2 linked regions of the Homo sapiens genome follow. The protein of the gene in region 2 purifies or fractionates together with the protein of the main gene of each other region. This does not show direct contact. Each region holds a gene or a part of one and is shown on either strand. Other genes may lie near its edges. The genes, in order: CD99L2 and GRM4.

Evidence for each region.
Region 1: the proteins of GRM4 (region 2) and CD99L2 purify together in Homo sapiens (affinity purification with mass spectrometry; one large-scale study listed by BioGRID and IntAct). This does not show direct contact.

Annotation. Positions count from the first base shown.
Region 1 is NC_000023.11:150,888,357-150,892,370, forward strand, and holds part of CD99L2 (CD99 antigen-like protein 2 isoform 1 precursor), read right to left. Parts: intron 1-4,014. UniProt on the Homo sapiens protein: Plays a role in a late step of leukocyte extravasation helping cells to overcome the endothelial basement membrane. Acts at the same site as, but independently of, PECAM1.
Region 2 is NC_000006.12:34,136,088-34,139,587, forward strand, and holds part of GRM4 (metabotropic glutamate receptor 4 isoform 1 precursor), read right to left. Parts: intron 1-3,500.

The sequences.
Region 1 (4,014 bases), on a different chromosome or scaffold from region 2:
AAATGGAGTACTGATCCACGCTACAACAGGCAGGAACTCAGAAAATATCATGCTAAGTGAAATAAGCCAGTCACAAAAGGACAAATACTACCTGATTCCGTTGCTATGAAATGTCCAGAATGGGCAAATCCAGATAGGAAGCAGATGAGCCAGTGCCAGGGGTTAGGGGAGGGGGAATGATGATGATCACACAAAAAAAGTATTTAATGCCACTGAACTGTGTGCCTTAAAATGGTTAAAATGGTAAATGTTATGTGTATTTTACCACAATTTTTAAAAGGTTTCTAAGCCCATCTGTTTTCTACCTTGTCTACTGGAATGTTCATGCTTAGAACCTGAAGGGGCTATGTAAGAAGTTCAAATACAGTTGCCTTGCTATAAGGAAGCTCAAACCAGAGAGGCCACATTTGGGTGTTCCAGTGGACAGCCCCAGCTAAGCCCATCCTTTATGACATGTGAGTAAAAAAAAACCTCCAGATGATTCTAGCCCCCAGCCATTTGAGTCCTCCTAGCTGAGGTCCTAGATACAGTAGAGCAGAGACAGCCATCCTTGCTGCATTATCCTAATTCCCAACCTATGGAGTCTAAGAGCATAGTAAACAGTTGTTTCAAGCCACTAATGTGTGGAGGTTCATTATGCAGCAATAGGCGACAGCAACGGCCTTCAACCTGGGAGAAAGGGGGCAAGTGTCCTCTTGGCAGATAGCACTACAGCAATAATGGAATCCTTGTGTGTCTTTTAAGATACATGTGACTATGTATAGTTGCTTCCAGGTCTGTCTGGACTTTAATCTCCTTGAGGGCAGGTGCATGTTTTACCCTGCTCTGTTTCACCCACAGTGCCCCCACACGGGTCCTGGCTGCTCATTCAGGATAAGGCCTGCTGCCTGCCATCTGCCCTTCAGATCCACTCTCTGTGTCCCAGGCCACTGACCGGTATGAGCTTCATCAAAGGGCTTCTTTGTCCTCTGGCCTCCCTGGGGTTAGCCCATGGGTTTCCTTAGTATCTCAAGTGCCATTCACATCTCAGTTTTTTTTCCCCCACATTGCCCTTAGGCTGAAAGAAATACCCAATATAGTTCCACCATCCCAGGCTAGTTGAAGCAGCAATAAAAAAAAAAAAACAAAAGTAGAAGGTCAAAATGAGCCCCGGCTGTGCCTGGGCACTATTTTGGTGGAAATAAATTCCACACTGCAGTAATACTTCCTGTGGAGAGTATCACCTCTAATTTAGAAAATAATCCCAAATACAACCACCTAACAATGACAGCTAGATGTTTTCTAGCTTCTCCTCTACACAGATGTTCACTGAACAGGGGTGTCATATCTATAGGATTCAACTACAGCAGTTTTCAAAGATATTTCTGCTGTAAAGCAGCAGAACGTTCTGACATCTTGTGAGAAGCCCGAGGTAGAAAACTAATAAAAACAAAGCTCAAAACTGGTTGAAGTGGAGTTGTTCTGCCTATGGAGTAGCCATTCTTTCATTCTTTTACTTTCTTAATAAACTTGCTAGCCGGGCGCGGTGGCTCACGCCTGTAATCCCAGCACTTTGGGAGGCCGAGGCGGGCGGATCACAAGGTCAGGAGATCGAGACCATCCTGGCTAACACGGTGAAACCCCGTCTCTACTAAAAATACAAAAAAATTAGCTGGGCGTGGAGGTGGGCGCCTGTAGTCCCAGCTACTCGGGAGGCTGAGGCAGGAGAATGGCATGAACCCGGGAGGCGGAGTTTGCAGTGAGCCGAGATCGCACCACTGCACTCCAGACTGGGCGAGAGCGAGACTCCGTCTCAAAATAAATAAATAAATAAATAAATAAATAAATAAACTTGCTTTCAGGCTGGGCACAGTGGCTCACGCCTGTAATCCCAGCACTTTGTGAGGCCATGACAGGTGGATCACCTGAGGTCAGGAGTTCAAGACCAGCCTGGCCAACATGGTGAAACCCCGTCTCTACTGAAAATACAAAAATTAGCTGGGCGAGGTGGCAGGCGCCTGTAATCCCGGCTCCTCAGGAGGCTGAGGCAGGAGAATCATTTGAACCCGGGAGGCGGAGGTTGCAGTGAGTCGAGATTGCGCCATTGCACTCCAGCCTGGGTGACAAGAGCAAAACTCTGTCTCAAAAAATAATAATATAAATAAAATAAAAATAAACTTGCTTTCAAAAAACAAACCAACAAACAAAAAACAACACTGGTTGAAGTGGGAGTGGGGGATTCAGGTGCACCCATTCCTGTCTGGTCCTCTCCCCACACCCCCGCCCCCACCTTGAGAGAGAGGGAATGGACACAATTAGCTGAAGCCACAGCACTGGTAAGGGCAGCCAGGAGAAAGGCAGGCTGGCAGCACACTCCTCCTCGTCCTCAGCGAAGGGGCAAGTGCGGCCTGCACAAATCAGAAACCCTCTGTCTGCTGGCCCCAGGCTGCATCCTGCTTCAAGTGCGGCCATCAGGACTGGAGGAGAAGGGTGGGAAAGGCCTCTGGAGACAGCCAGTGGCCCCCACTGCAGGTGGCCTGCAACATGGGCCATGCTCCAAAGCAGAAGTGCAGGCTCCCATCCCCTTGTAAAGCAGTTTGGAATCAAATGCAAGCGCCAGAAATCCAGCTACCTTCCTGGGCCCTCAGATATGCTTCTAAACATTCATTGCTGCACCAAAAACATCATTACAACCCAATTTTCTGCACATTTATTTTAAAATGCTGAACTTAGAGCATTCTAGGGATTGATTTTAAAATGGTAAAACTGAAACAATGTAAGGAAATATCACATACTAGTTTTCCAAACAAGGAAGAGGATGCTAGTATCTAACTCTTAGCTTCTTACTAGCATCCTGTTTTGGCTATAACAAAATATACTGTATTCAACAGTTTAAAACAATACCCATTTATTATCTCACAGTTCTAGAGATAAAAGTCCAACCCAGGTCTCATTGGGCTAAACTCAAGGTGTGGGCAGGGCTGTGTTCCTTCTGGAGGCTTTAGAGAAAAATCTGTTCCCTGTCTTTTCCAGCTTCTAGAGGCTGTGTGGTCCTTGGTTCCTGGCCCCTTGCTCCATCTTCAAAGCCAGCAATGGCCAGGCGAGTCCTTCCCATATGACATGGCTCTAATCCCCGACTCTTCTACCTCCCTCTTCTGTATTTAAAGGACCCGGGTGATTACATTGGGTCCACCTGGATAATCCAGGATAATAATATTTTAAGGTCAGCAGATTGGCGGCCTGAATTCCATCGGCTACCTTACTGAATTTCCCTTGCCATGGAGCCTAACATATTCACAGGTTCCAGAGATCAGGACGTGGATGTCTTTGGGGGCTCATTATTATTCTTTCTACCACAGCCTCCCACCCCACTCCATGTGGAACATGTGCCTACATGAAAGATTTTCCAGCCCGTTCTTGATAGGTGTCTACGATGACGTTAAGCTTTTGCATGCAAACCAACATTCACCAGTCATGGACCTAGCCTCAGGGAGGGTCCAGTCTGGATTGGGGGACAGGAACCCCTTGAGCCAGTCCTCCCAGGCACCCAAGAGCAGAAGAGGAATAACATGCAAAGTACAAAACCTAAGAGTGAGCCAGGCGTGGTGGCTCACTTTGGGAGCTGGGTAATCCCAGCACTTTGGGAGGCTGAGGCAGGTGGATCACCTGAGGTCGAGAGTTGGAGACCAGCCTGACCAACATGGAGAAACCCCATCTCTACTAAAAATACAAAAAATTAGCCGGGTGTGGTGGCACATGCCTGTAGTTCCAGCTACTCGGGAGGCTGAGGCAGGAGAATTGCTTGAACCCAGGAGGCAGAGGTTGCAGTGAGCCAAGATCGCGCCATTGCACTCCAGCCTGGGCAACAAGACTGAAACTCCATCTCGAAGGAAAAAAATAATAAAAATAAATAAATAAATAAACCCACCTAAGAGTGAACACACAGCAGAAAAAGCAAAACACCAGGTGGGGAAAAGAACAGAACAGGAGGCCGGGCACGGTGGCTCACGCCTGTAATCCCAGCACTTTGGGAGG
Region 2 (3,500 bases):
CAAAAGACAACCACTGCCATGTGCCAAGCACTGTTCTAAGTGCTTTACCTACATTTTCTCATGTAATCCCCACATCCCTATGAGCTTCATGGTATTTTTATCCCTATCTCACAGATGAGGAAGCCAAGGCACCAAGTGCTTAAGCAACATCTAGCCAGGGGCACAGAGCTTGTGCAGGCTGCCCGTGCCCCTGGCTGCTCCTCTGTGCTGGCCCAGAGGATCTCTCAGGCCTTGCCAGTTCTAAGGTCCTGTGAGTTTATGATCGGTTTCCATGAATTTCAAACAGAGGGCTTTTTGGCATCATGACAGGCTGTGTGCTGGGGCTACAGCAGGGCAGATTCAGGCTGGGAGACCAATGCACAGCAGCTTTTGAAGTCAGGCCCTGCTTAGGCTTCCAGATCCTTCGTGAGGGCTCACACTGGCTTCTCCTTGAGGCCGGAGCACGTCTGGGCTGAGCAGTGCATGCGCGCGTGCGGACACACACACACACACACACACACACACACACACACACACACGGGGAAGGACAGATGCCATGGGGGAAGGAGGCCTCCAAGAGGAGAAAGGCAAACACCCGCAGATTAGAATCAAGAGCCTGGAGCCTCAAGCTGGTCAGATCCCCTGCGAGACTTCCCTCCCACAGGACTGGGTCCCAGCCCCTGCCCACAGGTCCCTATCCACCCCTCAGTCCCACCAGGCCTGCCTTTTCTGAGCTTCTCCAGAGAGCTGGGCAAGCCACTGCCTCTTTTAGCTTCCCCTCCCTCCTTTGATCATGTAACAGGAACAAGGGAAAAGTAAAAATACCCCATGAGTGAAAGGAGCCACTGAGAGCAGAGGCAGGGTGTGGTGGGGTGGGTTGGGGTGGGGGCCAGGCGGATGCTCCCTTCCCCCGCAGGGCCTGCTTCCTTCTGCAGAGGGAAGAGCTGGGGGCACATAGAAGGGGTCCTTCTTTAAAGTCCTTGCCCAGTTTTCAGACACTCCCCCGCCAATTCCAAAATAGCCAGGAGAGCTCAAGCCTGGGTCAGTTAGGGGCATCCTTCCCCAGGTGAAATCATCGGGATGACTGTGAGTCCAAGCCAGTGTGGGCCCCACCCCCAGACGGGCCTCTTCCCCCTTTCCTTTCCTTCTCCCTTCCCCACCACCCTCTCCCAGTCTCTCTCCTCTTCTCTGGCTCCACTAGGTTCCTTGGTTCCAGGGGAGGACAGAGCCAGGCATGGAGGAATGAGAGCCCTGAGGGGCAGGGATGAGAGCGACTGGGTCACCTCCACATAGCAACAGCTCTCAGGCCAACAGTGTTTTCCAGAACATTCTTTCCAGTGAATGGGGATGTAAGGGGAGCTGGTGGGGGACAGCTGCAGACTACCCCTTTCCCCAACCAACAGTCAGGGTAAGGGGGATGGGGGAGTCCCCACACATCCCAGCTGGGACCTCTCTGTTATCTAGGGCTTTTGTGCAGGAACTCCAGGAACCTGCCTTGTGGCCACTTCTAAGTCCCTTTTTTTTCTTTTTTTTTTGAGACAGGGTCTCATTCTGTTGCCTAGGCTGGAGTGCAGTGGTGCAATCACGACTCACTGCAGCCTCAACCTCTCAGGCTCAAGCGATCCTCCTACCTCAGCCTCCTGAACAGCTGGGACTACAGGAATGCGCCATCATGCCCACATAATTTTTTTTTTTTTTTTTTTTTTGCAGAGATGACATCTCACTATGTCGCTTGCCCAGGCTGGTCTCGAACTCCTGAGCTCAAGCGATCCTCCAGCCTCAGCCTCCCAAAGTACTGGGAATACAGGTGTCAGCCACTTTGCCCGGCCCTCTTCTTAGTATAATATTAACAAGCAGGACCTTCGTGCTTTTCCAACTTCAATCCTTCCCTCTGCATCCAGGGCCCAAGCCAGAAAGAACCACAAACCACAAAACAACAACCGGATCCGAAGAGAACTGCTGTGATTTACCAAACCCCCAATTATTTTTCATTGAGTTTCTTTTTATTCTTCCAAAACTAAGAAAATAGAACAAAACCCAAACACCAGAATAAAGGGTAAATCGAGAGAACAACCTTGTCCTTTGTTTCCCAGGGTCAGGGTCATTGCCAGAGTCCCTGGTTCCTGCTCTTGGCCCTCTGAGGGTCAGCTCCCATAGGAAAAGGGCTTGGGGACTCAGGCCCGAGCCCCTTGGGGTTCAGCAAAAAGAGCCAGGCCAAGAGCTCCCTCCCACCTTCCTCTCAGCTCCCAACCTTCCCTGTGTTCCCACCAGCACTTCCTTCATCTCCATTCACCTTTGTCTCTGCAGGGCCCACCCAGCCCAGGTGCTCAGGAGCGCTCTAGAATTGTGAATGGCTGTGTGGAGTCTGGTTTCAATTCCTGAGCTGTTTAGATGCCTCATCACCCACATCCCACATCTCCCAGAAGGGGGATGGCAGCGCCACTGCCCCAAAGGGGAAATGAGGGAGAACTGGAGGCCTCTCCCCTCCCCTCAGCTCTGTGACCCCTCTGCTATCCATCCGGGCCCCCACTGGCTGGGCAGAGGTGTGGTTTGTAGGACAGGACAGGAATCGGGTTGTCAGAACTGTGCCACCCCTGCCAGCTGCACTGTGCGACTCGCAGGCCATGGGGAAGGTGGATGACCAGTTAGCCCTTCAAATCCTCGCAGCACAGCCCTCCTCGTGCTGACCTCTGCAGCCCAGTCCTGCACAGAGCCTGGCATCCCCAGCAGGCTTTGTGGAGGTGAATGAATGACGTGATGTGAGCCAAATGATTCCAGGGCCTCTCGTTCAAGTAATCTATCTCTGTGTTTAAGGCCCCTTCCATAAGCAACTCTTTAACCCACAGGACTGATTCTAATGGTGGAATGTGAGGCATAGTTTCAGGCAGGGAAACTAAGGATTGATTCAGCTATAAGGAGGCATCTTGGAACCTTCAACCCACCCCAGGCCAGCTGGGGCTTTATTCTGCCTAAAGAGAAGCCCTGCTCCCAGGCAGTCAGCCAGAATGGCCACAGCCGCATGCTAAGAGCTAAGAGCAAGAAGCACAGTGGGGGTCTGGCCCCAACCGGCTTCCCTTTCCTTCCCCCGTGAGCTGCTCCGGCTCACCAGCCTCGACCAGGAAGCCTCCTGATGTCAGAAATCCCAGACCCCAATCCACAAGCTGTCCCCTCCCTGTTCTGCCAAAACAACAGGGCCCTGATTCAGAGGCAACTGGCTCTGTCATGGGCATGGGGTGGAATGCCCCAGAGGAGAGCAGGGAGGGAAAAAAGGAAGGTAATTCTTAGGGAAAGAGGAAGTAATTCTTTTGCCTAATGCCAGTGTAAACTTGGAGCAGAAAACTTTAAATCCATTGCCCCTGCCTTCCCCCAACCTATGATTCCCTCCAGCCTCCTCTCTGTGAAGCTCTCCCTTCAAGAAGCAGCTGAGATCCTTCCTCCTCCAGGAAGCCTGCCCTGATTATTACAATTCTTGTCATCTCCTTCCTCCGCAGTTAATGACACAGAACCTCTCTCATGTTAAC